2 separate regions of the Homo sapiens genome follow, and region 1 is linked to region 2. A link means that fine-mapping ties the variant in region 2 to the expression of a gene that starts in the linked region. Tissue or cell type: tibial nerve. Region 2 holds a variant in brackets; the other region holds the start of a gene. All regions are shown on one strand. Distances are from middle to middle.

What was found. PIP is the estimated chance that this variant, and not a neighbour inherited with it, causes the effect.
Region 1: GGA3 starts here. The variant in region 2 is fine-mapped to the expression of GGA3 in tibial nerve (GTEx, PIP 0.97).

The regions. Positions count from the first base shown.
Region 1 is chr17:75,260,145-75,262,757 of GRCh38, reverse strand. GGA3 (golgi associated, gamma adaptin ear containing, ARF binding protein 3) reads left to right here and starts at 1,152. Exons shown (of 17, transcript NM_138619.4): 1 at 1,152-1,210. The coding sequence starts at 1,171. MRPS7 (mitochondrial ribosomal protein S7) reads right to left here and starts at 879. Exons shown (of 5, transcript NM_015971.4): 1 at 775-879; 2 at 70-261. The coding sequence starts at 857. RefSeq lists enhancers at 93-970, 767-1,176, 1,647-1,746.
Region 2 is chr17:74,396,395-74,399,147 of GRCh38, reverse strand. No RefSeq gene overlaps it. Among named protein-coding and RNA genes, the nearest start is that of GPR142, 30 kb to the right of the region's middle. The variant T/C (reference allele first, on the strand shown) is at 1,600.

The DNA.
Region 1 (2,613 bases), 860 kb before region 2:
AGAATCCTCACCAGAAACCCTCCCTGGGATAGTCCCAGTCCATGTAACAAGTGTTTGTTTCCATCTAACCTGATGACTGGGTCTTCAAACACAGAACTTGTTTTCCCTGCTGGAGCAGCTTTGATGAGCTGAGTCTTCTTGAGCTCCCGAACATATTTCTCCTCCTCAGTTAGCTCCTCCACTGGCTTGCGATAATATTCCTTGTCAATCAAGGGATCCTTGAATTCAGGACTATAGCGGCTCCATCTCACCTGAGTTAGCCTGGGAGGGGGGGAAAGGAGGAGGCAGGCAAAAGCTGACTCCACAAGCGAGTAGGTTTGACTTAACAATAGGCATGACTGCCAACGCGCCGACGAGGGGGAGCGGCGCGGAGACCGCGAGCTAAACCTGAGCCACAACAATTCAGGCCCTTGTCCCAAGTAGGAGGACATTCCCCAAGCAGGCGGGTAAAGTCTCCTCCTGGTCAAGTGCTAACGGTAAGGATGGGCTTGGCGCCTACACACCCATCCCAATTCACAGGCGATCCCAGATCTGAGCTCTTTAGCTGAACCGCACTTTCAGCTCCGCGTTAGAACCCTAGATCAGCCAGACTCCTTAGGCGAGAGGTAGTCACTAAACCTTCGGATTGGCGCAGGGTCACGCAGCTAACTTAGAAGCTTGAATCCAGATACTCCGGCCCCCAGGGCAATGCTCTCTCTAGGGGCCCACGCGGCCTGCCTGTGGCCCCCTTCCTTCCTCGCAGCGCCCCCCCGCCGCTGCTCGCCACCCTCTCACCCTGGAAGCTGCAAGACAGCCCGCCGCACGCCCAACGCCAGGCCCGACCATCCTCGGGCAACCTTCACTGCGGGGGCAGCCATCTTGGCTGGCCACGAGGACCCCACAAGGACTGCCCTCGGCGCGCCTGAGCGAGTGACGGGAAACGGGTGAAAAAGACTCCTCAGGGTCCTAAATCTGCGTTTCTCTCCACTGATCTGGACGTTAGAGTTTTTCACTCCGGGGTCCAAAGGGGAGCGCCAAAAGGAAACCCTTGCCCTCCCTGTATCCGTCGCAGTCTGGCGCGGCCCTCGGTGACGGCACTCACTCCTCTCAGGACCCCATGCAGGCCCCGCCCCGTCTCAGCTCGTGCAGACTCTCGCGAGTTTTGAAGCCGCGGGGCCGGGCGGCTGCAATATGGCGGAGGCGGAAGGGGAAAGCCTGGAGTCCTGGCTCAGTGAGTAGCCGCGGCCGTTTCTGCCTGCCCTCGAGCCGCTGGGCTGCCCCTGTCTTCACCCCCACGTCCCCTCCCCGGGCTCCACGGCGTCGCCTCTTGGCAGCCCACGCCCGGTCTCGCCCTCGCCGCGAGCAGCCTGCGATCACGCCCCTTCCCTATCAGGGCGCCGGGCCCCAGTCCGGCCCCCGCTTCCCTCGCTGCGGCGCGTCCTCTTGCTCTGGCGCGCGGCGGCGTGAACTCGGGCTCCTGTCGGGCACCGCAGGCTCGGGGAAAGGCGACAGCCAAGATCTTCGGGCTGACATGCTTCGGCGCTTTGGGGAGATTGTGGTGGGGTCGCCGCCCGGCGGTGACACCAGGAACCCAGCGCCCCAATCCCTGACTAAGGGAGAAGCTTCGGATTGGGGCTGAGTCTCCGGTAGTGGTGGGTGCTGCCGACTGCGTTCAGTCGCCTGGCAGCTTCAGAATTGTGACCATGTGTTGGAGAAGTGACGGCTTCGCTCAGGCAGAATGCTTGAAGTGAGAATAATATTCCAAAGAGAGCGATGATAGAGAACAGAGAGCTCTACCTTTTTCCTGCAGTGACCACAGAAGCATGGTGAAATCGGTGTCGGGAATTCCCCCCCCACACACATACATATACCCCCTTGAATATCCTAACGAGTCAGTGTTGATAGCCTATTCTGAGTAAGGCTGAGGAGCACAGTCTGAAGCTGTAGTTATAGAAGCGTATTGCTGTCATTGCACTGTGAATTACAGTGCTACGAAGGAAATGTGTGTTAACCTGGTTAGCAGGTAGTACTCTGCCTGAGGGTTAATAAGTGAACTTTCCTGTAGGCTAGACCTGGAAGCCTCCTTTAAGTGGAGAGAGAAATTGGACTGGTAATGGGATAGGTGAGATACCTAGTATTGCCTTGTTCTGAGGTCTCTTATTTAGTACTGCTTCCGGGATCTTGGAGGTGATAGCTATTTCCTCAAATTGTCTGATTTTTCCTAGTAAGAAACCCCCTTCAGGAGGTTGAGCTTCAGTTTAAAGGGGAGCATATCCCAAAAGAGAGAAAAAGTAAGATCACGTTTGCAAAATCTGCAGTTGCAGGCAGGTCATAAGGCTTCTTTATATATGGAAGTGTTCTCCAAGGAGCTCAAAGTACTTTACAGATATTCATTAAATTAGTTTACCAAGTATTCTAGCAAAGCAGGCACTACTGCCATAATTTCACAAAAAGAGGACATCCTGACTCCAGTCAAACCACTTGCCCAGAAATGCCCAACTTGCTATAACCAGAGTGGAATTAGTTTGCTTTGAAGGTATTAATATGGGTATTGAATAATTTAAATGACCTAAGCTGAGTTTAATAGGCTACATTTAGAGTTACATTTTGTTTTTGTTACTTGTTTTTGAGACA
Region 2 (2,753 bases):
AATGAACTATTGATATACACAACACCTGCGATGAACCTCAAAGGCATTATTCTAAAGAAAAGAGCCAGTCAAAAGGTTATATCACGTAAAAGTCCATTTCTATGACGTTCTCAAGAAGACAAAATTACAGAGAACATGTTAGCCATTTCTAGGCAGAGGCTGGGGTGGGGAAAGAATGTGGCTCCCTGAAGGGGACTCTTGAGGAGGTTTCTTGGGGCGATGGAACTAGCTGTATCCTGATTGTGAAGGTGATTATGCAAATCGAAACAACAACAACAACAAAAATCAACTTTACTATATATTAATTTTATTTATTTATTTATATTTATATATTTTTATTTTCTGAGACAGTGTCTCACTCTGTCTGCCACCCAGGGCCCAGGCTGGAGTGCAGTGGTGCGATCTTGGCCCACTGCAACCTCCATCTCTCAGGTTCAAGTGATTCTTCTGCCTCAGCCTCCTGAGTAGCTGGGATTACAGGCACCCACCATCACATCTAGGCTAATTTCTGTATTTTTAGTAGAGACAGGGTTTTACCATGTTGCCCAGGCTGGTCTTGAACTCCTGACCTCAAATGATCTGCCCTCCTTGGCCTCCCAAAGTGCTGGCATTACAGGTGTGAACCACTGTGCCTGGCCAGTTTTACTATATATTAATATTTAAAAGTAAATAGAAATAAGGAAGGGGAGGTGAATTAAGAAAAAGGAAAAAAAAATTTTTTTTTTTTTTGAGACAGGGTCTCGCTCTGTCCCCCAGGCTGGAGTGCAGTGGTGTGATCACGGCTCACTACCGCCTCAACCTCCTGGGGCTCAAGCAATTCTCCAACCTAGCCTCCCTAATAGAGGCATGTGCCACCACATCTGGCTAATTTTGGGATTTTTTGTAGAGGCAGGGTTTTGTCATGTTGCCTAGGCTGGTCTCAAACTCCTGGGCTCAAGTGATCCTCTCCTCTTAGCCTCCCACAGTGTTGGGATTACCGCTATAAGCCACCGCACCTGGCCTCACTCTCTGCTTCAAAGATAGCACCTTCTTGCTGTGTCTTCACAGGGCAAAAGTGAACAAGCTCCCTCCAGCCTCTTTTTTTTTTTTTTTTTTTTTTTTTGAAACAGTATTTCATCTTGTTGTCCAGGCTGGAGTGCAATGGCACGATCTTGGCTCACTGCAACCTCCACCTCCTGAGTTCAAGCGATTCTCCCGCCTCAGCCTCCTGAGTAGTTGGGATTACAGCATGCACCACCATGCCCGGCTAATTTTGTATTTTTAGTAGAGACGGGGTTTCTCCATGTTGGTCAGGCTGGTCTCCAACTCCCAATCTCAGGTGATCTACCCGTCACAGCCTCCCAAAGTGCTGGGATTACAGGCATGAGCCACCGCACCCAGCACTCCAGCCTCTTTTATAAGAGCACTAATCACCTCCCAAATGCCCCACCTCTTAATACCATCACATTGGAGAGTAAGTTTCAACATATGAATTTAGGTGGGGCACAAACAGACCACAGCACAGTCCAAAAAGTAACTCCCCTAAAAGTCACTCAGGTAGGATGTAGCTGAGCTAGAATCTGACGCCATTCTCTGACAGCTGGTTCCTGAGCCCATATG[T/C]ACTGTGGTCTAGATCATGTTCTAGGTGGAAATGGGGATAGCAGTGACCCAAGACCCCAGGTCTTGTCTGCTATAGAGTGAGGTAGAAAAAACCATGTGATGGGGAGCCCGAAAACCTGGATGCAGCCGGGCCTGGTGGCTCATGCCTATAATTCCAGCACTTTGGGAGGCTGAGGCTGAAGGATCACCTGAGGTCAGGAGTTCGAGACTAGCCTGGCCAACATGGTGAAACCCTGTCTCTATTAAAAATACAAAAATCAGCCGGGTGTGGTGGTGCATACCTGTAGTCCCAGCTACTAGGGAGGCTGAGGCAGGAGGATTGCTTGAACCCTGGCGGCAGAGGTTGCAGTGAGCTGAGATTGCACCACTGCACTCTAGCCTGGGTGACAAAGGAAAACCCTGTCTCATAAACAAAACAAAACAAGGCTGGGTGTGGTGGTCATGCCTGGAATCCCAGCACTTTGGGAGGCCGAGGCAGGTGGGTCACCTGAGGTCAGGAGTTCGAGATCAGCCTGGCCAACATGGTGAAACCCCATCGCTACTAAAACTACAAAAATTAGCCAGATGTGGTGACGGGTGCCTGTAATCCTAGCTATTCAGGAGACTGAGGCAGGAGAATCGCTTGAATCCAGGGAGGTGGGGGTTGCAGTTAGCTGAGATCGTGCCACTGCACTCCAGCCTGGGCAACAGGAGCAAAACTCCATCTCAAAAAACAAAACAAAACAAAACAAAACAAAAATACCTGGTTGTGAGTCTTGGCTCAGCCACTTGCTGTGTGACTTCCACAAAGTCACCTCCCCTCTCTGAGCCTCCATTTCTTCATCTGAAAAGAAAGGACTGCCTCTGGATTGAAAGCAGCAACAGAAAAGGAGAAACTGTTTGCAAAATATGAATGTAAAATGGAATGATCGCTTCCCTCCACCACCTCGTTCTATCCTGGAACTTGCTTGCCTCTCAAGTACTGGTGTCATTTTATTCCATTACCGAGCCAGGGGTTCACCATTTTTTTTTTTTTTTTTTGAGACAGAGCCTCACCCTGTTGCCAGGCTGGAGTGCGGTGGCGCGATCTCGGCTCACTGCAACCTCCGCCTCCCGGGTTCAAGCGATTCTCCTGCCTCAGCCTCCCAAGTAGCTGGGACTACAGACAAGTGCCA